Linked DNA regions of Homo sapiens. The protein of the gene in region 1 interacts with the protein of each later gene in a pairwise test. Each region holds a gene or a part of one and is shown on either strand. Other genes may lie near its edges. The genes, in order: SYCE1, SPATC1L, HMG20B and CCDC102B.

What was found.
Region 2: the proteins of SYCE1 (region 1) and SPATC1L interact in binary tests that used the Homo sapiens proteins (3 or more experiments, as listed by UniProt).
Region 3: the proteins of SYCE1 (region 1) and HMG20B interact in binary tests that used the Homo sapiens proteins (3 or more experiments, as listed by UniProt).
Region 4: the proteins of SYCE1 (region 1) and CCDC102B interact in binary tests that used the Homo sapiens proteins (3 or more experiments, as listed by UniProt).

The regions. Positions count from the first base shown.
Region 1 is NC_000010.11:133,562,568-133,569,776, forward strand, and holds the start of SYCE1 (synaptonemal complex central element protein 1), read right to left. Parts: upstream 3,017-7,209; 5' UTR 2,963-3,016; coding exon 2,890-2,962; intron 1-2,889. UniProt on the Homo sapiens protein: Major component of the transverse central element of synaptonemal complexes (SCS), formed between homologous chromosomes during meiotic prophase. Requires SYCP1 in order to be incorporated into the central element.
Region 2 is NC_000021.9:46,174,439-46,181,474, forward strand, and holds part of SPATC1L (speriolin-like protein), read right to left. Parts: intron 1-7,036.
Region 3 is NC_000019.10:3,568,111-3,575,962, forward strand, and holds the start of HMG20B (SWI/SNF-related matrix-associated actin-dependent regulator of chromatin subfamily E member 1-related), read left to right. Parts: upstream 1-4,833; 5' UTR 4,834-4,884; exon of another isoform or gene 4,885-5,181; 5' UTR 5,182-5,199; coding exon 5,200-5,237; exon of another isoform or gene 5,238-5,581; coding exon 5,582-5,690; exon of another isoform or gene 5,691-5,707; intron 5,708-6,272; coding exon 6,273-6,476; intron 6,477-7,429; coding exon 7,430-7,550; intron 7,551-7,852. UniProt on the Homo sapiens protein: Required for correct progression through G2 phase of the cell cycle and entry into mitosis. Required for RCOR1/CoREST mediated repression of neuronal specific gene promoters.
Region 4 is NC_000018.10:69,053,051-69,055,696, forward strand, and holds the end of CCDC102B (coiled-coil domain-containing protein 102B), read left to right. Parts: intron 1-979; coding exon 980-1,087; 3' UTR 1,088-2,139; downstream 2,140-2,646. UniProt on the Homo sapiens protein: During interphase, forms fibers at the proximal ends of centrioles to maintain centrosome cohesion. During mitosis, dissociates from the centrosome following phosphorylation to allow centrosome separation. Contributes to CROCC/rootletin filament formation.

The DNA.
Region 1 (7,209 bases):
CCAAGAGTGTAAACACACAAGTTCATGTCAGCTCCTAAACTGTTTGCTTTTGTATTGTGTTACCTGATTTTTTTGTTTATTAATTATTGCAACAGAAGCTACTCCTGCATTTTTAAGGAAGAGTATATTTTAGACACTTAGAAATATTTTTTTAATGTTTTTTAAGTACACTGTAAAAGCATCCATGTGGTCGAGCCTCATAATAATTCTCCCTTTTTGCAGACCCAGGATTCAGTGTGGCCTCTTCCCAGAGCTCAGAGATCCAGTTAAAAGATAGGTAGTCACTATCTAAATAAAATTGGTCTCCTGTGATCCAACCACCTCCCACCAGGCCCCAACTCCAACATTGGGGATTACAATTCAACATATTTGGGTGAGGACACAGATCCAAACCATATCACAGGCCAAGGCCAAGGCCGAGGCACGGTTGAGAAGGCTCAGAGGCACCTGACCAAAGTTTGTAACAGTTTTGATTGACAATACCAAATTACCTTACACTGATGTATACAAGATGCCCAGTTTTTCATTTTTACCAATCACCTATGTTTCCAAACGTGTTTATCTTTGTCAACCAGATATGCAAAATTAAGGTGTCTCCTTACAAACTTTCTGATAGTAAATATCAAAAGTTTGGGTGCATCTTATTTTCTAAGACTATGTCCTAAGTAATTCTGGATATGGCTAATGGGCAAGGTGTTCATCACTGTATTGTTTATAATAGTGAAAAACTCGAAGAAGCCTAAATATGCCTTAGGGGATTTGTTAAATAAATTATAGCACATACACAGGATGAAATCATTTACAGCCATTAAAAATCATGCATACATGCATAAGGCCAGGCTCAGTGGTTCACATCCATAATCCCAGCACTTTTGGGAGACTGAGGCAGGAGGACTGCTCAAGCATAGGAGTTCAAGAGCAGCCTGAGCAATGCAGCAAGACCCTCTCTCTACAAATAAAAAATTTAAAAAAATTATCTGGGCATGGTGACATGTACCTGTGATTCCAGCTACTCAAGAGGCTGAGGTGGGAGAATCTCTTGAGGCCAGGAGGTCAAGGCTGCAGTGAGCAGTGATTGTACCACTGCACTCCAGCCTGGGCAACAAAGCACAATCTCGTCTCAAAAAAAAAAAAAAATCAAGCATAAAATTTTGTGAAATGCTTATTTTTGAGTTTATGGAGTCCCCTCATTTTGGTCCCACCTGAAATCTTACACAAATTACTGCTCATAAATTTTTGCATTAAGTTTTAAATTATTCAAGTAATTGGCATGTGTGAAAAAGTATGAAGAAAAAATTGAAACACCAACATTCCCTTTCCCCAGTCATTCCCCTTTCTAGTAATAACTGCAGCCAGTTAGGTGAAGACTAATAGACTTTTTACTAAAATGTATCTAGTGTCACTGACCCTAGATAACATCCCTGCTTCCTTTTTAAAACAGATAGACTAAAACTGGAATCTTGTCCTTTAAATTTCTTCTGTAGCTGGTCACTATAGAATGTTTGTGCCCCCATCCATAGTTCGTATGTTGAAATCCTAACCCCCTAGTGTGACTGCATTAGGAGGTGGGGCCTTTGGGAGGTGATTAGGTCATGAGAGTAGGGCCCTCAGCAATGGGATTAGTGCCCTTATAAGACCAGAGAGGTCTGCAGCAACTTCCCCAACATGAGGACACAATGAGAAGACAGAAGTCTATAGCCAGGAAGCAGGCCCCCACCAGACGCTGAATTGCACCTTGATCTTGAACTTCTAGCCTCGAAAACTGTGAGAAATAAGGCATTTCTGTTGTAGCAGTTTGAACTAAGGCACAAGCGACATTGGTTAAAACTTACCTAAATATACTAGGTTATGTGAGGAACATGGAGCCATGATACTGAAAGGCTAGCACACCGGCGGGCCAGCAGGTGCTTAATGAAAGGGATACGTTTGCGTCTGTCCTGTTTACTTGCTTTGTCCTTCGCTGGGGCTTTCACTGTGCCACATCTCACTGTAGGGATGCTTTCTGTGCTAAGCTTGTTTCAGTATTCAAACCTTCATTTTGTAAGAACATGACAGAGCACCTGCCATGGCATTCACGCAGGTAGGGCTGGAGGCAGCCACCGACGTTTGTTAATTGCAGAGTTTTAACTCAAGGGGGACAGATGATCTCAGGACAGAATGACAAGCTGAGTGACAGCAGGAGGGACGTCACCGTACAATTCTCTCCACTTTTCTGTAAGTTTGAAAATCCTCACAGAACACCCAGAGGCACACAGTGTCCTGAAGTGGAAACGGCCAGGACAGTGTCCTTTCTCTTTGTTGGGCTGCAATTTCTGGACTTCTGTACAACTCTGACCAGCTGCCTGTCCCCTCCCTTCCCAGGGTGAGGTAGGAGCCACTATGGCAGGTCGGGGTCAGGGAGAAACAAACGGGGGATCTGCGTGGAGTCGGCCTCCCCCGGCTCCCCGGGGCGTCGGGATGCTGGGTGGGGGGCCCCACTGTCAAGAACCAGTTTAGTGCGACTGGGAAATCTGGACACTTGCTGGTTCTAGGGAGAGGAAGGTGGAATTAGGAATTCCCTTGGGATTGGGAGCGTCAGGAAAATATCCTTTTTGTTTTAAGAGGTGTGTATGTAAAGTCTGTGGGACAACGGGAAGGGATGTCTTTTGACTAATTACCTAAACCAAAATTGGAGCAACTATGATAACAGTTCAATGCTTTAAGACAAAGTGGGGGGTGTGCGGGCAAGCACTCCCTCATCTTGGCCGAAATTTTTCTGAAGAAACCCGCTAAGTCTCAATCAGCAGCATCAGGACTGACAGGAAGAAGCAGCCGCCACCCGCGCCCCAACCCTGCCCCGCCTCGGCGAGGTCAGACCCTCACGCACAGTTCCCTGCCTCCCACCACTACCTCCGGCCTTCTCAGCCCTGTCCACGGCTCCTGCGGTGGGCTCGGCCTTCGATGTCAGGGACCTCCCCGCCATTTCCTCTCAGCTCGCCAGCGAGGGTGCCTCGGGAGGGAGCCTCCAGTGGTGATTGGAGCAACCGCCGCTGGGGGCAGGACTCCAGGCAGCGCGCCTGCGCAATGCACTCCTGCGCGCGCCTGGAGATGTGAGGTAATTCTCCGGCAGGCCTGCGTGGCACTAGTGCGCATGCGTAAAGGCGCGAGGGCTACAAACGCGGCGGGAAGCCCGCCAGGGCCACGTGCGGCCGTCCAGGCTTGCGATTGGCCCGCTGCCGGGTGCCCCCGCGCATGTGCGCTGGCTTCCGAGGGGACCGGCCCTGGTTCTGGAGGCCCTCCCCACCAACGAGCAGTACGCATGTGTAGCGCCGAAGCTTCCTGTGAAGTGTGCGTGTCTGACGGATGACGACTCCACAAGGCGCTGTGGCCCTGGCAGCCTCATGAGGTTGCGGCTCTGCGGGACCACACCGCCGCGGGAGTGCACGGGCCCCAGCGAGTGAAATCTGCGGCAGCCCCCGCTGGGCCCGCTGTTCCTGCGCGCGCAGAGGAGCGTAGCCTGCCCCTAGGCCGCGTTCCCGTGAGCTCCATGCCCACAGTGGCCGAGGCCGGCCACAAGCCCACGGTCCCTTCTGCACGGTCCCTGCCGCGCTGGGGCCACCGTGGAGGCCCGGAGGGCCCTGGGAGGAGGGAGGAGGAGCAGAGGCTTTCGGGAGAACCCAGCCCTTCACCGGCCAGGGGAGGCCGCGATGCATCGCGACTGGTTGTGAAGAGCCAGGGGAAGAACTTTACCGTGCAGGTGAGTGGGAGACATCAGAACACCTGCCTGTCCTAAATACGAAGCCTCGAATCCTAACCTATAAAAGGTTACCTTAGGGTTTAGGGTTAGGGCTACAGATTAGAGCTAGGGATTAAGGTTAGAGTTGGGGTTGGGGTTAGGGTTTAGGGGTTAGAAGTTAGTTTTGGGGTTAGGAGTGGGGTTAGAATTAGGGTTTGGGGTTAGTGTTAGGGGTAGGGGAAGGATTGGGGTAGGGTTAGGGTTGGGCTAGGGTCGGGGTAGGGGTAGGGTTTTACGGTTAGGGTCAGGGTTTTAGTGTTGGGGTTAGGGTATTGGGGTTAGGGTTTGGGGGCTAGGGGATTAGGGTCAGGGGTGGGGGTTAGGGTTTGGGATTTGGCTAAGGTTTGTAAGGGTTAGGGTTTTAGGGTAGGGGATAGGGGTTAGGGTTACGTGTTGGGGTTGGGATTAGGGTTAGGGGTTACAGTTTAGGGTAAGGGGTTAGAGTTAAGGGTTAGGGTTAGCATTAGGAGTTACAGTTGGGTTAAGGGTTAGGGGTTAGGCTTAGTGTTGTTAGGGTTAGGGTTAGGGTTAGCATTAGGAGTTACAGTTGGGTTAAGGGTTGCAGGTTAGGCTTAGTGTTGTTAGGGTTAGCTTCAGGGTTCGGTGTCAGGGTTTGGGGTGGGGTAGTGGTAGGTTTAGGGGTAGCGTTGTGTGTTAGGATTTGTGGTTACGGTTCGGGCTAGGGTTTTAGGGGTAGGCATAGGTTCGAGTTTGGGTTTGGGTGTTAGGTTTATGGCTAGCATTAGGGTAGGGGTTAGGTGTAGGAGTAGGGGTTGAGGTTATGAGTTGAGGTTAGGGTTAGGGGTCAGGGGTCCGGTCAAGGGTTGGTGTTGGATTTAGGGATTAGGGCTAGAATTAGGGGTTAGGGTTAGGGGTTTGTGTCGGGGTTGGGTTGGAGGCTTGGGTTCAGGGTCAAGTTTAGGGTTGGGGCTAGGGCTTAGGGTTATGGGTTAGTGTTAGCAGTTAGGGTTAAGGTTTAGGCTTAGGGTTTAGTGCTTGAGGTGGGGGTTAGGTGTTAGGGGTTAGGGTTAAGGGTTAGTGTTTTGCGTTAGTGGTTAGGGTTAAGGGTTATGGTTAAGGGTCAGCGTTAGGGTCAGGGGTTAGGGGTAGGGGTTGTGCTTAGTTTTAGGGTTAGGGTTCCTGGACGGATGGTTTTCCTGCTTGGGAATGTTCCTGGGCTGTGAGATCCACTCTTCTGGGCAGGTGGTTAGCACCTAACGTTTTCCCCTTACTTCCCCCCAAATTCTTAAGTCCTTTGGTCCATTTCATTACTTCTTTTGGGGAGGGCCTGATTCCTCAGGGCCTCAGTGGCAGAACCAGCCTGAGGTCACCTCCCTGTCCATGGGTTACCACGGCCCCTGGGCAGGCATGGGGAGCTGGGGTGGCTTGGGTTCCTGGCCTTGGCACCTCCCTTTGGGCGGCTCTGGAGTGTGGCTGGGCTGTTGGTACAGGAGCCACAGGCCACTGCCTTTTTGGCTGAGGGGACCCTAACATCCTGGAGCAGGTGGGGCAGGGCCCATGGTCTCCTCTAGGTGGGAGGTGGGAGGCTGAGGCGGCGTGGGCAGGCAGGTGGATGGCGAGGCAGCATGGGCAGGACGGTGGATGGCGGGTCCACAGGGGCAGCCAGCAGCTCCTGCACCCACTGGGGCTCCAAGACTGTGGGCAAGGGAGGAAGGGGGAGCCCAGGCCGGAGGATCCTGGGGGACGGTGCGGCCCGGGGGCCAGATGTGGTCACCGAGCCCAGCCAGGCCTAGGGCCGCAGCAGCCCCAGGGCACTGAGGGCGCCACCCAGCCCGACACAGAGGCACAGGCCGCCCGTGGGTCCAGCGCCCGAAGTCCACGTACAGTAGCTGTAGATGCCGAGCCGGTCCTGTTGCCTCCGGGAACCCAGTCCTCCTCGTCCTCCAGGCCGCGTTCCCCGGGTCCCGCGGCCCTTCTCCAGCCTGAGCCCGCCGCCCCGGCCGCAGCCACGCGCAGGGAGGAGCCCGGGGCACCATAGCACAGCGCCGGCCTCACACACACCCTCGAGGCCCCTCTCGAGCCCCCGCGGAGCCCTCCGCGGCCGCACGCAGAGGAAGGCTGCCTCCTGTAGCAGAGCCCAGCCATTCGCGGGTGCCCAGTTCATCTTCATGGGGCTAAACCTGCGGGAAGAGAGGGAAAGGGCCCTTAGTTTCCATGGAGATCGGGTGCCCAGAGGCGGAGGGCTCAAGGCTGGAGAGCAGAGGGACCCCCATCTTTTGTGGGATCAGGGTGCCCCCAGCATCTTGGAGGCCCACTGAGGCCTGGGGGGGCGCGGTTTAACCTCTAGCATCAGGGACTTAGGCCTGGGGGAGGCGCTGGGAAGTGGCAGGTGGGGCAGGAGGGGCAGGAGGGTTCTGCACCTGAAGGTTGTGCACCTGGATTGGGGGTGTAGAAGCGGGGCAGGAGCGTTCAGGCCTCTGGGGGCGTCCAGGCCCGGGCGGGGGAGCAAGCCTGGGGGAGGGAGCTCTGCACGCGTTGCTGGGATGTGGGGGGCGGGGGGAGGCGGCATGGGGGGAGGGGCGTTGTGTTTGGAGGACGCGGTAGCCGGGACCAAGAGCTGGCTCAGATCAGGGTCTGGAACGGGGACGGGCCGTGCCTGGGCCTGGTCCCCACCTTTGGGGCCAAAGCCTGGGTGCGGGCCTTGCGGATGCTGCGGAGGACAAGCGGCTGCTGACACCGTGCGGACTCCGCCCCAGCAGACCCGTGCCCCAGGGACAGTCCCTCCCGCGCGCGCCCAGCGCTCAATGCCGTCCCCGGCCGCCTAGTTCAGCAGCTGGCTGGGGGCGGGACGGGGTCGAGTTGCGGGGCCGCGTCCAGACACGGCTGTGCGGGCGACAGCTGCATCCCCTCCCCGCGCCGCCCCTCGCTCCCGGCCCCGTACCCGCCCCAGCCTCCCGGCCTTACCCGCCACGGGCCTCGGTTGGAACCGCGCGCTGGAGTATCCGTCCCTGAGGCCGCGGCCGAGCGGGAAGGAGCGGGCGGGCGGCGGCGCGGACCCTCAGCCGGAGCGCGGAGCCGCGGCGCCTGGGTTTTGCGCGAGGCCTCCGCCCTGGGATTGGGGCGGGCAGTCGCGGAGGCGCATCCCTGGTGAGCCGGTGGGAGGGGAAAAGGATGTCGCGTCCCCCATCCTTGCGGCCTCCCGTCCTCCGTCACCAGCCCCCTCCGTCTCCTGCATCACAAGGCCCCGTCCCCGCGGTCCCCCGCGACCCCCGCACCCGGCTCCGCTCCACCCGCCGTGCTTCCTGCCCCTCCACACCCTCGTCCCCACCCGGGCCCATCCCCCTGTGAGCCCTGGTGCCCTGGGATGAGGGCCGAGGTCCTGAGCGGAGAGGGTGCTTGTACCAGCCCCATGGTGGCTCGAGCCCACCCCGCGGCCCCTCCCGTGGCAGGTGCGGTTTCTCCACCGGTTGTCA
Region 2 (7,036 bases), on another chromosome or scaffold:
AAATAGGCTCAAAATAAAGGCATGGAGAAAAATCTACCAAGCAAATGGAAAACTATGATTGCAGGGTTGCAATCATAGTTTCTGACAAAACAGATTTTAAACCAATGAAGATCAAAAAAGACAAAGAAGAGCATTACACAATGGTGAAGGGCTCAATTTAACAAGCAGACCTAACTACACTAAATATATATGCACCCAACACAAGAGCACCAAGATTTATAAAGCAAGTTCTCAGAGACCTTCAAAGAGGCTTAGACTCCCACATAATAATAGTGAGAGACTTCAACACCATACTGACAGTATTACAGATAATTGAGACAGAAAATTAAAAAAGATATTCAGGACATGAACTCAGCACCGGATCAAATGTACCTGACAGATATCTACAGAACTCTCCACCCCAAAACAATAGAATATACATTCTTCTCATTGCCACATGGCACACACTCTAAATTCAATCACATAATTGGAAGTAAAATACTCCTCAGCAAATGCAAAACAACTGGAATTATAACAAACAATCTCTCAGACGACAACGGACCCAGTTAGAAATCAAGCCTAAAAAATTCACTCAGAACCACACAATTACATGGAAATTGAATAACCCGCCCCTGAATGACTTTTGGGTAAACAGTGAAATTAAGGCAGAAATCAAGAAATTCCTTGAAGCTGATGAGAACAAAAATACAACATACCAGAATCTCTGGGACACAGCTAGGGCAGTGTTAAGAGGGAAATTTATAGCATTAAATGTTCACATCAAAAAGTTGGAAAGATCTCAGTCAAACAACCTAACATCACAGCTAAAAGAACTAGAGAATTAAGAGCAAACAAATCCCAAAGCTAGCAGAAAACAAGAAATAACCAAAATCAAAGCTGAACTGAAGGAGATTGAGACACAAAATACTATTCAAAACATCAATGAATCCAGGAGCTGGTTTTTTGAAAAAATTAATAAAATAGATATACCACTAGCTAGACTAATAAAGAAGAAAAGAGAAAAGATTCAAATAAACACAATCAGAAATAAGGGATATATTACTACTGACCCCGCAAAAATACAACCAACCATCAGAAAATATTATGAAAACCTCTATACACATAAACTAGAAAATCTAGAAAAAATGGATAAGTTCCTGGACACATACACCCTCCCAAGACTGAACTAGGAATAAATGGAATCCCTGAACACACCAATAACAAGCTCTAAAATTGAGTCAGTAATAAATAGCCTACCAACCAAAAAAAGCCAGGACCAGATGGATTCACAGCTGAATTGTACCAGATGTACAAAGAAGAGCTGGTACCATTCCTGGTGAAACTATTCCAAAAAGTTGAGGAGGAGAGTCTCCTCCCTAACTCATTCTATGAGGCCAGCATCATCCTGATAACAAAACCCGGCAGAGATGCAACAAAAAAAGATAACTTCAGGCCAATATATTTGATGAACATTGACGCAAAAATCCTCAACAAAATTCTGGCAAACCAAATCCAGCAGCACATCAAAAAGCTTATCCACCACAATCAAATAGGTTTTATCCCTGGGATGCAAGGTAGGTTCAACATAAATCAATAAATGCGATTCATTACATAAACAGGACTAAAGCAAAAACCATATGATTATCTTAATAGATGCAAAAAAAGCTTTCAACAAAATTCAACACCCCTTCATGTTAAAAACGCTCAATAAACTAGGTATTGAAGGAACATACCTCAAAATAGTAAGAGCTATGTATGACAAACTCACAACCAACATCAAAACTCAACCCCTCAAAACTTGGCACAAGACAAGAATGCCCTCTCTCACCACTCCTATTCAACATAGTATTGGAAGTCTTGATCAGAGCAATCAGGCCAAAGAAAGAAATAAAGCCCATCCAAATAGAAAGAGAGGAAATCAAACTATCCCTGTTTGCAGATGACATGATCTTATATCTAGAAAATCCCATAGTCTCAACCTAGATTCTTAAGCTGATAAACAACTTCAGCAAAGTCTCAGGATACAAAATGAATGTGCAAAAAACACTAACATTCCTATATACCAACAACAATCAAGACAAGAGCCAAATCAAATGGAATGAACTCCCATTTACAACTGCCACAAAAAGAATAAAATGCCTAGGAATACAGCTAACTAGGGAGGTGGAGGATGTCTACAAGGAGAACTACAAAACACTGCTCAAAGAAATCAGAGATTACACAAATGGGAAAACATTCCATGTTCATGCATAGGAAGAATCAATATCATAAAAATGGTCATACTGACCAAAGTAATTTTATAGAGTCAATGCTGTTCTTATTAAAATACCATTGAGATTAATCACAGAACTAGAAAAAAACTGTTTAAAAATTCATATGGAACCAAAAAAGAGCCCGAATAGCCAAGGCAATCCTAAGCAAAAATAACAAAGCTGGAGGCATCACACTACCCAACTTCAAACTATACTACAGAGCTACAATAACCAAAACAGCACGGTACATAGATCAATAGAACGGAACAGAGAACCCAGAAATAAGTTTGCACACCTATAACCACCTGATCTTCAACAAATCTGACAAAAACAAGCAATGAGGAAAGGACTCCCTATTAAATAAATGGTGCTGGGATAACTGGCTAGCCATATGCAGAAGACTGAAATTGGACCCTTTCCTTACACCATATACAAAAATCAACTCAATATGGATTATAGACTTAGATGTAAAACTCAAAACTATAAAAACCCTGGAAGACAACCTAGGCAATACCATTCAGAACATAGGGATGGGCAAAGATTTCACAACAAAGATGCTAAAAGCAATTGCAACAAAAGCAAAAATTGACTAATGGCATCTAATCAAAGAGCTTCTGCACAGCAAAATAAACTATCAACAGAGTAAACAGCAAACCTACAGAATGGGAGAAAATTTTTACAAACTAATGCATCTGACAAAGGTCTAATATTCAGCATCTATAAGGAACTTAAAGAAATCTACAAGAAAAAAACAAACAACCCCATTAAAAAGTGGGCAAAGGACATGAACACTTTTCTAAAGACATACATACAGCCAACGAGCATATGAAAAAAGGCTCAACATCACTGCTTATTAAAGAAATGTAAATAAAAACCACAATGAGACACCATCTCACACCAGTCAGAATGGCTATAATTAACAAGTCAAAAAACAACAGATGCTGGCAACGTTGCAGAGAAAAAGAACGCCTATACACTGTTAGTGGGAGCATAAATTAGTTCAGCCATTGTGGAAGACAGTGTGGCGATTCCTCGAAGACCTAAAAACAGAAATACCATTCAACCCAGCAATTCCATTACTGGTTGGGTTCCATTAATGGTACCCAAAGGAATATAAATCATTTTATTATAGAGACACATGCACGCATATGTTCACTGCAGACTATTCACAATAGCAAAGACACGGAATCAACTTAAATGCCCATCAGTGGTAGATTGGATAAAGAAAATGTTGTACATAGACACCATGGAATATTATGCAGCCATAAAAAAGAAAGAGATCAGCCGGGAGCAGTGGCTCATGCCTGTAATCCCAGTACTTTGGGAGGCCAAGGCAGGTGGATTACCTGAGGTCAGGAGTTCGAGACCAGCCTGACCAACATGGTGAAAACCATCTCTACTAAAAATACAAAATTAGCTGGGCATGGTGGTGCATGCCTGTAATCCCAGCTACTTGGGAGGCTGAGGCAGGAGAATTGCTTGAAATCGGGAAGCGGAGGTTGCAGCGAGCCGAGATCGTGCCATTGCACTCCAGCCTGGGCAACAAGAGTGAAACTCCATCTCAAAAAAAAAAAAAAAAAAAAAAAACCAGAATGAGATCATATCCTTTGCATGAACATGGATGGAGCTGGAGGCTATTGTCCTCAGCAAACTAATGCAGGAACAGAAAACCAAATGCCACATGCTCTTACTTATAAGTGGGAGCTAAACAACGAGAACACGTGGACACATAGAGGGGAACAACAGACACTGAGACCTACCAGATGGTGAAGGGTGAGAGAAGGGAGAGGATCAGGAATAATAACGAATGTACTAGGCTTAATACTTGAGTGACAAAATAATCTGTACAACAAACTCCCATGACACAAGTTCACCTATGTAATAAGCCTGCACTTGTACCCCTGAACTTAAAAGTTTTTTAAAAAAGAAATACATGGCCAGGTGCAGTGGTTCATGCCTGTAATCCCAGCACTTTGGGAGGCCGAGGTGGGTGGATCACCTGAGATCAGGAGTCCAAGATCAGCCTAGCCAACATGGCAAAACCCCATCTCTACTAAAAATACAAAAAGTAGCCAGGCATGGTGGTGTGTGCCTTTAATTCCAGCTACTGGGGAGGGCAAGGCAGGAGAATCGCTTGAACCCAGGAGGCAGAGGTTGCAGTGAACCAAGATGACACCACTGCACTCCAGCCTGGGCAACAGAGCCAGACTGTGTCTCAAAAACAAACAAACAAAAAACCATTTACTCCTGCCTTCTGAATCAATGATTCTATTTTTTAAAAATAAATCCAGCTGGACAGTGGCTCAAGCCTGTAATCCCAATGGTTTGGGAGGCCAAGGTGGGAGAATTGCTTGAGCCCAGGAGTTTGGGACTGGCCTGGGCAACATAGGGAGACCCTGTCTCTACAAAAAAAAAAAAAAAATTTTTAACTAGCCGCTCATGGTGGCAAGCACTGTAGTCCAAGCTACTCAGGAGGCTGAGGTAGGAGGATTGCTTGAGCCCCAGAGGTCGAGGCTGCAGTGAGTCATGATCATTGCCACTGCACTCCAGCCTGGGGAACATAGACCCTGTCTGAAAAAGAAAAAAACATAATGGGCCAGGCACGGTGGCTCACACCTGTAATCCCAGCATTTTAGGAGGTCGAGACAGAAGGATCCCTTAAGCCCAGGAGTTCAAGACCAGCAACATAGAAGATCCCATCTCCATAAAAGTAAAAAAAATCACACACACACCAAAAAAAGAAATCCAATGGAAATAACCTTAAATATAAAAATTCTTAAAACCTTTTTTGTGGTGCTATTTACCTCAAGGGGAAGAAAAACTTTAATTTCAAACTGAGGGAGAATTCATTACATTGTGGTTCATCCGAATCGGCAATATTGCAGGGCCATTTTAAAGTACACCTAACAACACAGGGACAATCTTCTGTCATGTCAGACGGAAGGAGTGACCAGGAGTTGCACATAGAGAATTCTCACCACTGTTGGAAATCATCTGACAATCCACCACCAACAACTAGGGAGCGAGTGGGCAATCTGGGGGGGCCTGGCTGTCCTCCAGGGGACACCTCTCCAGTGGAGACACGGCGAGTGGCATCGTGGCCGTGCTGGAGGGACCAGGACAATCCCGAGGGAGACGAGATGGGGCAGCTGGGAGGGGAGGCAGAGGACTGCTGCTCCCACTGGCCCTTCGCGTCACTCACTTGTAAACCTGGGTGAGAAGACCTGGAGACCTCGCTCCCCAGCTGACGGGGACAGATGAGCCCTCCTGTGACGTGGGAACGATGCCGGCGCAGTGCCCTCCTCCTCCATCAGTGGGGTGTAGGGACCGTTCAGAGAGCGTTTGACAGTGTCTGTTTCAACATTTCAAATGCACACAGCCTTTGACCCGAGGACCCAGGTGTGGGATCCCCTACACAAAGCCACAGGGCGCCTGCGCAGGCCACCCACGGCGGCGGCGTCCACGGTCGCAGAGAACTGGGAACAGTGCTGCCTGCCTGGGGCCCCCACAGAAGGAGCCCAGTGTTCAAGTGTGCCGGGGAGATCTGCAGATAAGGACTGGTGGGGAATGCCGCGAAATGGATCGTTAAGGGGGAAAAGTCAAGTTGCGGAACAGCACAATCCCGTGTAGGTGGACCAAAAAGATACACAGACAGACACACAGATCTCCACTAAAGTTCCAGAGAAAACCCAAGAGAACGTTGATTGTGGCTGCCTTTGCGGAGGGGGCCGGAGGCGTGGCCTGAGGCTTAAACGTTGCACCCTCCATGGCGTTTATAAGTTTACCATGAGCACGTGTTGTTGAATCCGTAAGAAAAGCAGGTTTTTACTCATCCTGTTTTGAACACAGATGCTAATGAAGTCTTGGCAACATGCAGACATTGCTGGTGGTGGTTCCTTTGTTTATAAACTTCTCCTTTTTTGCAGAAGCTCAGTGCTGGTCTTCCCAACCCCAGTTCTGCTGAGGGCTGGTCCTGAATGCAGCGTCCCACAGCCCCAGGTACATTCCCAAGCACATGCTGAGGCCCAGAGCATTAAGGGTGCACCACACGCTGCCACTCAAGTGGCAGAGTTTAGAGGGTGGTCTTGTCCAGGCCCCTCCCCGCTGCCAGCCCGGGCCACACTGAGCCTGCCCCACACCCTGTGGCGGGGGCTCCAAGGCCCTCTGTGGAAGGCCTGCTGGCCTCAGGTTGAGGCTCCTCCCAAGACCCGTGTCCAGCAAGACCTGGGTTTGCCAAGATGACCCAAGGGCAGGGGCAGCAGCCGTGGTCATGGAGACCCCGCCCGGACTCAGCCCCTGACAAGGGTCCCTCTGGGGACTGCACAGCCTGGGCAAGGGTTGAGGGTCTGCCCCTCTCCTGCCAGGGGAGGCACCAGCACTCTGTCCAGCCCTGAGGTCCGGCCCAGGGTGATTCCTTCTTGAGGAGGAGGACAGCAACGCAGCCCGGGGCACGCAGCCTGCGGCGGTCCACACACGCCAAACAGATTAAGGGCCCTTTTGCAGCCACAGTGCCCGGGCCTCACAAGTGCTGTGAACGGGACCCTGCACGTGGCCCAGCACCGTAAGCGCAGGTCTGCCCAGCAAACGCCCTGTGGTGAGCGTGGGGCTCAGTGGCCGCTGATGGAGACGCAGAACCTGGGGCCTCGCACAGCATGGCCCCCAGGCGCCAGGTTCCCCAGCCACACTGTCCCCGCACATCCTGGCGAGGTGCTCTCCTCCCAGCTCCCTGCGAGGAGCCCCTGCCTGTCACCAGAGACCAAAGGTGTGGGGACGATGCCATGGATTCCCCTCTTTGCTTCCAGACA
Region 3 (7,852 bases), on another chromosome or scaffold:
TTTTGCTTACAATTGAAACTCTGGGAATTCAAAATTAACATCCTTGCCCATGAGCTTCTTATAGACACCAGAAAAAGTTTCAACCTTGTGTTCCATATTGTTCTGCTGTGCCTTGTCCAAATGAACCTTTATGAGCCGGCTGCCATCTAGTTTCACGCAGATTCTCTAGAGTTTCAACTGTAAGCAAAAATGACTAAATAAAAAATATATATTCACGTTAAAAAAATTTTTTTTTTTTTTTTGAGACGGAGTCTCGCTCTGTCCCAGGCTGGAGTGCCGTGGCGGGATCTCCGCTCACTGCAACCTTTGCCTCCCGTGTTCAAGCTATTCTCCTACCTCAGCCTCCCAAGTAGCTGGGATTACAGGTGCCCGCCACCACGCCCGGCTAATTTTTGTATTTTTAGTAGAGATGGGGTTTCACCATGTTGACCAGGCTGGTCTCGAACTGTGGACCTCGTGATCCTCCCACCTCAGCCTCCCAAAGTGCTGGGATTACAGGTGTGAGCCACCGTGCCTGGCAATTTTTGTGTTTTTAGTAGGGACAGGGTTTCTCCATGTTGGCCAGGCTGGTGTCAAATTCCTGACCTCCAGCGATCCACCCACCTCGGCCTCCCACAGTGCTGGCATTACAGGCGTGAGCCACCGCGCCCAGCCCACGTCTTTATTAGGAATACGCACATGTGTACGTGTGTAGGCATGTGCTGTGGGTGGAGTCATGTCCCCACAGAATGCACAGGTTCCTGTCCTAATCCCCAAGGCCTCAGAATGTGACCGTATTTGGAAAAAGGTCATTGCAGATATAATGAGTTAAGATGACATCATTAGGGTGGGCCGTGACGCAGTATGACTGCTGTCCTTATCAAAAGAGGAAATTTGGGTGCAGACACGCACATAGGGAGAACCCCACATGAAGATGCAGGCAGACATCGGGGTGTCACTCCTACAAGACAAGAAAAGCCCAGGATTGCTGGCCAATGCCAGAAACTGGGAGACGCCAGGGACAGATTCTCTCCCCGCCCTCAGAAGGCCCCAGCCCTACCCACACCTTCCTCTTGGACTTCTGGCCTCCAGAACTGTGAAACAATAAATTTCTCTTGTTTAAGCCCCTCAGTTTGTCGTAATTATTACCTAGCAAACCAATGCAGTGTGGTGTGCGTGTGTGTGTGTGTGTGTGTGTGTGTGTGTGTGAGTGTGGCTAGGAAAAATTTTAAAAAGAGATGCGGCCGGGTACAGTGGCTCACGCCTGTAATCTCAGCACTTTGGGAGGCCAAGGTGGGCGGATCATCTGAGGTCAGGAGTTCAAGACCTGCCTGGCCAACATGGCAAAACCCCGTCTCTACTAAAAATACAAACATTAGCTGGGTTTGGTGGCACGTGCCTGTAATCCCGGCTACTCAGGAGGCTGAGGCAGGAGAATCACTTGAACCTGGGAGGCGGAGGTTGCAGTGAGCAAAGATCACGCCACTGCACTCCAGCCTGGGCGAATGAAACTCTATCTCAAAAAAAAAAAAAAGAAAAAAAAAAGGCCTGGCACAGTGGCTCACGACTGTAATCCCAGCACTTTGGGAGGCCAAGGCGGGTGGATCACAATGTCAGGAGATCGAGACCATCCTGGCTAACACGGTGAAACCCCATCTCTACTAAAAAATACAAAAAAATTAGCCGGGCGTGGCAGCGTGTACCTGTAGTCCCAGCTACTTGGGAGGCTGAGGCAGGAGAATGGTGTAAACCCGGGAGGTGAAGCTTGCAGTGAGCCGAGATCGCGCCACTGCACACTAGCCTGGACGACAGAGCGAGACTCTGTCTCAAAAAAAAAAAAAAAAAAAAAAAAAAAGCAATAAGCTGACGATAGGAAATGTAATGAAATTAAAGAGGTCTGAGCTGCACTTCCTTAATTCTGTACAAGTGAAATGGATGTGAACATGATTTGCATAATAAAAATTAATTAGAAAACCAAAGAATTATAAGGCAAGTCATCCTTAATGGAGAGCTTCCACCTCTAGGATTATAAATTGGTATACTGTTCCTGGCTTCATGCTATAAAAACTGGCAAATAAATCATAGTAATAAATGACAAAAAACAAACAAAAAGGCCGGGCGCAGTGGCCCACCCCTGCAATCTAGCACCTTGGGAGGCCGAGACGGGCGGCCACCTGAGGTCAGGAGTTCAAGACCAGCCTAGCCAACATGGTGAAACCCTGTCTCTACTAAAAAAAAAAAAAAAAAAAAAATTAGCCGAGCGTGGTGGCGGATGTCTGTAATCCTAGCTACTTGGGAGGCTGAGGCAGGAGAATCGTTTGAACCCGGGAAGCAGAGGTTGCAGTGAGCCGAGATGGTGCCACTGCACTCCAGCCTGGGCGGCAGAGCAAGACTCCATCTCAAAAAAATAAAATAAAATAAAATAAAATAAATAAACAAAATAAAATAAATGTTCAATTAAATTGTTATTGACTATGGCCGGGAGGGGTGGCTCCACACCCAGCCTCACCTAGACTATTTTTAAGTGAGCAGAGAGACACAGGGGAGGCCTGGGAGGTCAGAGAGCTGATTAAGCAACAGAGCCAGGTCTGGCGTGTGGAACCGTCCAGATTCCAGGGCCAGCTCCTCTTCCTCAGCCCCGGGCTGCATCTTAGGACAATGGGCTTATTGAGACTTAACTCACATATAATGCACCCATTTAGAGCATACAATTCCATGGTTTGTAATATATTTCCAGAGTCACGCAGCCATCACTGAAATCAAATTGTAAAATACTTTCATCACCCAAATGAAAACCGCATCCCTCTCAGTGGTCATTCCCCACCCACTGGCACCCACACGTCCCCCTCCTGTCTCTGTGGATGGGCCTTTCCTGAACATTCTGATCACACACTGTGTGACCTTTGTGTCTGGCGTCTCTCACTGAGTGTGATGTCTTCTAGGTACATCCATGCTGTGACTTGTGTCAGAGACTCGCTCCTTTTTTTTATGGCTGATAATATTCTTTTTTTTTTTTTTTGAGACGTAGTCTTGCTCTGTTGCCCAGGCTGGAGTGCAGTGGCACAATCTTGGCTCACTGCAACCTCTGCCTCCCAGTTCATGGGATCCTCCTGCCTCAGCCTCCCATGTAGCTGGGATTACAGGCGTGCACCACCACGCCTGGCTAGTTTTTGTATTTTTAATAGAACTGGAGTTTCACCATGTTGGCCAGGCTGGTCTCGAACTCCTGACCTCAAGTGATCCGCCTGCCTCCCAAAGTGCTGGGATTACAGGCGTGAGCCACTGCGCCCGGCCCATGGCGGATAATATTCTGTTGTAAGGATATATCCCGTCATCGATCCATGCATCATTAGCAGACGTTTGAGTTGTTTTCACTTTTTGGCTATTATGAATCACGCTGCTACCGACGCTTGTGTACACGCTTTTGTTTGAACACCTGTTTTCAGTTGTCTGGAGTATATTCCTAGGAGTGAACTGCTGAATTGCATGGTGATTCCACATTTATTTAACCCTTTGAGGAAATGCCAGTCTGTTTTCCAAAGCAGCTGCATCTGCCTCCTAGACATCTGAAGGATTCAATGAATGTGTATTGAGCATCCACCATGGGCAATGCTGTGAACCAAACAGGCAGGCCACAGGGAGAAGCCGACTTATGGAGGCAAAAAAAAAATCAGAGAAGGCCTGGCTGAGCAAGTGACATTTAAGCGGACTTGAGGAAGAGGAAGTGGGCCGGGCGTGGGGGCTCACGTCTGTAATCCCACCACTTTGGGAGGCCGAGGCGGGTGGATCACGAGGTCAGGAGTTCAAGACCAGCCTGGCCAAGATGGTGAAACCCTGTCTCTACTAAAAATACAAAAATTAGCCGGGCGTGGTGGCAGGCGCGTGTAATCCCAGCTACTCGGGAGGGTGAGGCAGAGAATTGCTTGAACCCGGGAGGCAGAGGTTGCAGTGAGCCGAGATCCAGCCACTGCACTCCACCCTGGACGACAGGGTGAGACTCCGTCTCAAAAACAAAAGAGGAGGTGAGCAGCCCCAACTTGGGCCAGAAGCCTAGACTGCTGCTGGGAGGTCCCTGATCCACCAGAGCGGAGCCTCCTGACCCATCCTCACGAAGTCCTTGCCATCTCCCTTCACCACCATCTTTCCCCAAACACTTCCAGCCCAGCTCCCAACCCCACCCCCTGCCTGACCCACACCCAGTTCTCAGCTTCCCAGCATCCCAGTCTCTCTGTCCTGGATATCGTGTGATGTCCCCGTTGCACAGGGGGGAAAGCCGAGACCCCAGAGGGAGAGCAGCCCCTATGGCCAGAAGCCCTCGGATCCGGACGTCGGGGGCTCTAAACTGAGTAAATACATAGGAAACTTCTCCGCTAGGTTTTGCAGGATGTTAAGAACAGGTCCCACCTTGCCTAGGGCTGGGGACTGCCTCGCAGGACCTTAACCCTAGCAACCCACCTCCGTCCCCATGGCAACCGGGGCGGGGCCCGACCCGGATCCGCCGGTCGCCCCATCCGGCAGCGGCTGGGAGTCTTGCCTTCAGAGAGGGAGGAGGAGTCCGCGCCTCTCCTACTGGCCCTTTAAGAGGCTCCGCCCGGCAAGTCCGCCACTCGCTCCCGATTGGTCCCGAGCGCGGCCGAGCGCAGCCGAACTTGACGCACCGCCCGCAGCCTTCCTTACCAACCTCCCACGCGACTCAGCAACCTCCCCAACCAATCGCCGGCCGGCGCGCCGATCGGTATCTGCATGGGCTCGCCCGGGGGGAAGGTCTCACCCAATGGGACCGTTCGCCGAGGCCTTCATTAGCATGCCGGGGGCGGGGAGGGGCGGGGCGGCCGACGGGGGCGGGCTGCGGGCGGTTGGTTGGAGCGTCGCGCAGTCGGGAGGTCCGGGAAAGTTTCTTTGGAGGTGAAAACAGCCGCGGAACTCCGGGCCCTGAGAGGGGGCGGGGGTGCAGGGGTCCCAGGGCCGGGCCGGGGTCTTTCCTGGCCCGGGGGAAACCGGCCCAGGCCTCCCGGGGGGGGCAATCGCCCAACAAAGGATTCTTGGGGCGCCCGCCCTCGAGGACTTCCCTGCCCCTGGATCCGGCCCCCCCAGCGCTCCGGGCCCGGCATCCCGGGGCTCTCCATCGCGGGGTACCCCAGTTCGCGGTCTGCCATCGGGCAGCCCGGGCGCTACTCACCTCCGCCCGCGTCCGTGTTCCAGGTCCGGCCCGGAGCGGCCATGTCCCACGGCCCCAAGCAGCCCGGCGCGGCCGCCGCGTGAGTGCACTGATCCCCTCCCCACGCCCTCGCTACTTTCCCGGCTGCAGCCCTAGCTCCTGAACCCCTGACCCAGTCCCTCCCGCCGGAGTCTTGACTCCCCCACCTGGGTCAGGGGGCTTCTCCCTCCACCCAATTCTGCACCCCCCACCTCGGCCTCCAGTCCCTCCCAGGAGCCCCGCTTGTCCCACCTTCCCCGGATACTGACCCCATCAGACCCTGCCTCCTCGGGCTCATGCACTCTCGCTGCAGCCCCGCCGTCGGGGGTCAAAACGCCCTGGGGTGGGCTTTTGGGGGAGGGGAGATTCTTGGGACGGGGCTGACCGCGGTATCCTTGGCTCCAGGCCGGCGGGCGGCAAGGCTCCGGGCCAGCATGGGGGCTTCGTGGTGACTGTCAAGCAAGAGCGCGGCGAGGGTCCACGCGCGGGCGAGAAGGGGTCCCACGAGGAGGAGGTGAGAGTCCCTGCGCTGAGCTGGGGGAGGCCCCGGGCTCCCGCCCCAGCCTCGAAGCCCCGCCCCAGGCTGGATTTGAATTGCTTGTGGCTCCGCCCACAGCCCATTTTCCTCTGGAAGCTGAGACCCCGCCCCGTGCCAGCTGCCACGCCCCTGACAGGTCCTCTGCCACTCTAAGTCCAGGCCCCGCCCACCGCACAATGCCAGCTCTGCCCACTCTAAGGTCCCGCCCACTTCCACTCCTTGGGGGCGGCACCCTCCCCTTGGTCCTGTGGGCCCGTTCTCCAGCAGAAAACCACGCCCACCAAGCAGAGGCCACGCCCACAACCGAAGTCAACGCCAACCCTGTACTCAAACCTCGGCCCATAGTTCCTCAGATCCCCTCACCCCTGGCCAGGGATCCCTCTAACCCACCGTGTCCCGACTGCTGACCGGGCCCTACCTCCATCTTTTCCGGGTTCTTCCTCCCAGCTAGGCCCCGCCCCCATCCCCGCCCATACGCGTTAGGCCCCGCCCATGCCCCTCTGAGCCCTGCCCCAGTACGCCAGGCCCCCCTCCCAACGACGCAGCCCGGTTCTGCAGCCGGTGAAGAAACGCGGCTGGCCCAAGGGCAAGAAGCGGAAGAAGATTCTGCCGAATGGGCCCAAGGCACCGGTCACGGGCTACGTGCGCTTCCTGAACGAGCGGCGCGAGCAGATCCGCACGCGCCACCCGGATCTGCCCTTTCCCGAGATCACCAAGATGCTGGGCGCCGAGTGGAGCAAGCTGCAGCCAACGGAAAAGCAGGTGGGCGGGGCGGGGCGCCGAGCAGGGCTGGCGGGGTCCACGGACTACCCCCCAGTAGCCCCGACCCCCAAAGGATTCCACGTGCAGGGTTTTTCCTTCTTCCTGGAGAAATGCCCACCCATAACCAACTTTTTTTTTTTTTTTTTTTGTGAGATGGAGTCTTGCTCTGTTGCCCAGGCTGGAGTGCAGTGGCGTGATCTCAGCTCACTGCAACCTCCGCCTCCCGGCTTCAAGCAATTCTCCTGTCTCAGCCTCTCAGGTAGCTGGGATTACAGGCGCGTGCTACCATGCCCTGCTAATTTTTGTATTTTTAGTAGAAATGGGGTTTCGCCATGTTGGCCAGGCTGGTCTCGAACTCTTGACCTCAAATGATCCGCCCACCTCAGCCTCCCAAAGTATTGATATTAAAGGCGTTAGCCACCGTGGCCAGCCCATGACCAGCTTTTGGGGGCGCGGCTAGCAAGAGGCAAGACAGATTGAAAACTGGATGACCAACAAAGATATGTCTAAGAAGTCAGGATGGGGCCTGGATTTTTTGCGAAACCCGATTTTCATATCCTGTTAGTTTAAAAATTGCAAAAACATCACGGAAATGTAACAAAAGCCATCACTGCTTTGCATCCCTGTAAGTGAGATTTCAAAGAGAGAAACGGGTGCGGGAGGGAGTCCAGGCATCCGCATACGCTGGAGGTTGGGTTCCTGCCCATGACTCTGGCGTCCGGGAGTGGTTTGTCAGGGCTGGAGGTGGGGAAGAGTCCGGGGCATGGGAAGTGAGGTGGGAGCTCGGAGGTCCCTGAGCAACAGGCTGAGGAGCCGGTTCTGTCTGCCTGGAGGGAATAGGGAGCTATAGAAGGTTCAGGAGAGGGGAGGGTGCTGTGAAAGCAGAGTGATAAAGACTGGATCCTGGCGTTGGAGGCTTCCCCTGCTTCAAGCCTTCTGGTGCTGCCCCCCAGCGGTACCTGGATGAGGCCGAGAGAGAGAAGCAGCAGTACATGAAGGAGCTGCGGGCGTACCAGCAGTCTGAAGCCTATAAGATGTGCACGGAGAAGATCCAGGAGAAGAAGATCAAGAAAGGTGGGAGGGGTCGGGCGCGGTGGCTCACGCCTGTCATCCCAGCACTTTGGGAGGCCGAGGCGGGTGTATCACCTGAGGTCAGACCAGCCTGGCCAACATAGTGAAACCCTCCCCCTCTACTAAAAATACAAAAATTACCTGGGCGTGGTGGCGGGTGCCTGTAATCCCAGCTACTCGGGAGGCTGAGGCAGGAGAATTGCTTGAACCCGGGAGGTGGAGGTTGCAGTGAGCCAAGATTGCGCCATTGCACTCTAGCCAGGGCGACAGGGCGAGACTCCGTCTCAAAAAAAAAAAAAAAAGAA
Region 4 (2,646 bases), on another chromosome or scaffold:
ATCAAGGGACCCAGTATATATGAATGTTCAGAGCATCACAGGGCTGGAGACAATATAAATACTCATGGAAAGGAGGGTAGGTATATATGTCATGGCATAGTAATGCAGTGCTATAATAGAGAGGACAAAGAGACCACAGATGAAACATTACTGTAGATGAGTCTTAGCTGTTGGATTTAAAAAGCAAGAATATTACATATAGCATGAAATACCTTTTTTAATTAAAACAATTAAAATGATACATTTTCAATAATATATATAAATATATTTCACATATATATATATATACACTTAGCATATGTATATGTGAATATGTATACATACACGTGTATTTTGTTCAAAGCCATGGGAATAAAAAACACAAGTTATAGTTCAGTGACTTATAGCTAGGGGAGGCAAGAGGGGAAATGGGAGAAGAGTGGCTACATAGAAAGGATTTTGTCAAATATTTCAGAGATCATTTTGAGGTTTATTACTGAATATGTACATTAACTCTATTAAAATAAATGAATATTTTCATTTATTCATGCACATATACAAAAGAAACTCACACATACACTACTGGTAAGTTACTGTCATACAAACATATACCTTGTTTTTAAAGAGTTACTTTATTTCAACTACTTTTTTTTTTCATTAAGAGCTTTTCTTATTAAGATGGAGATAGAAAGCTGTGTCTTATATAGAATGGATCCTCATGTTTTTCAATTTAAATTTTATTTTTAAATTGACAAGTAAAATTTGTACATATTTATGATATACAACATGATGTTTTTCTAAATGTGTACATTGTAGACTAGCTAATCAAGCTACTTAATATATGTACTATTTCAAATACTTATAGTTTTGTGGTGAGAATACTTACAATCTATTCTCTTAGCAATTTTTAAGAATATGATAAGATGTTATTTACTATAGCCACCATGATGTACTATAGAACACTTGAACCTAACTAAAGCATTTTCTACTTCGCTTTCAGCTTGATGATTCCCTGAATCAGATCCGTAAGCTCCAGAGGTCTCTGGATGAAGAGAAAGAAAGAAATGAAAACTTAGAGACTGAACTCAGGCACTTGCAAAACTGGTAATTTTTTCACAAAATATGCTGAATTAAAGATTAGGGCCTTAAAGACATTTCCATATCCTTTTCTTAAATATCAGTAAAATTGTTTTTATTAACTAGAAATATTAATGAAAAAAACGTAGACAATACACAAATTAATGGGCTTCTTCACTTCTTCTAATTTTTGCCTAACAGATACTGCATATTCTCAAAAAGACAATTTAAATGTCATTTAAAAACAACTTTAATTCTAAGATGTGTAAATATTTTGAAAGTCAAAAAGGGCTTTCAGAATACTTTTTACATAAAATCTGAAAGAGTTATAATATCGGTAAGAAAAAGTAAGTTGAAAACCATACAAGACGCTGGGTCATTAATAAGAAAACCATTGACTTTAAGTATAAAGTACTGGTTTGTTTAAATAATTGGTAAACTTTTATGTACGTGTTGTCTATGTGGTGGGGATGGCAGGTTGTATTAACAAAAATGAATCATTCTAGAGGTGTAACAATACATTTCTTATATAATTTTATAAGTCATTTCTAATCTTTGTATAAAACAGAAGTGAGCAGATGAATCAGAAAAAAGTGTTTTGTATTTTAAAGTAACAGATAACCAGTGATTGAATCTAAGACAGGCTGTAAGCATCGCTGAGAAACTAAAAGGACTTTTGACTTTTATCTGGATAGACATTTCTACAGTAAAATCATGGAAAGGCATCAGCATTGCAAAGTAGCATCTAGGTAGAAATCAGGCCAAAATTAAGCTGTGGTTTCCCTCTGAGTAGTGGGAATAGAGAAAATTAGGAAATTGTGGTTATGTGAATATTTCTTTAAAACTTTTATGTACATTATAGTTTATTGCTTCATATTTAAGTTTAGTTTTTAAGGTAAAATGTTATTTTGAACAAAAAGACACTTATAATTTTCCATACCTATTTTCAACTGAAGGCAACTTGTAAGATTTAACTCAGTCAATAACATACTGGTTTTACTCATCTCCCCCTCCATTGATTAGCCAAAAAAAAATGAAATCTTACTAATTCATTATTGAATAAAGACCACTTTTATCAGAGTCTCTCATTGTAAAAGCCTTTGTCATTCACTGAGTCTTCACTTTTTCCCTGTTTCTCTCCCAAACATGGGGGATTGTATGACTAATAGGAACGCAGCACTGAGGGGCAAAGAGGCCCGATCTTCAAGTGCGCACTGGTGTGTGTTTGCTAGGCTGTGTAGTAATGAAATCTATCTTGTCGCTGGGTACTCTTGCTGGGTTCTGATGCTTAAATGTGAACTTCCTTCTCTTTGCTTAACACTCCTCCTGTGAACTGGATCCATCTCAGTGCTTTCTGGTATGACCTCCTCTATCCCATCATATCCCCTGTCAACCAACTGACTGAGCAATTCATCCAGATGGAGCCTTGAGGATGGGCCGCAGGTCAAGGTCTCATCTCAGTCACAATCCCATATGAGAACCAAATACAGTTTGGAGAAGCTAAATATTAGGGTTCCCCTTGCCTGACCATGTTTCTCTGCTTTTCTGTGGCTGTGCCCCAAGTGGGTGTGGGGCAACTGGCAAGGCGTC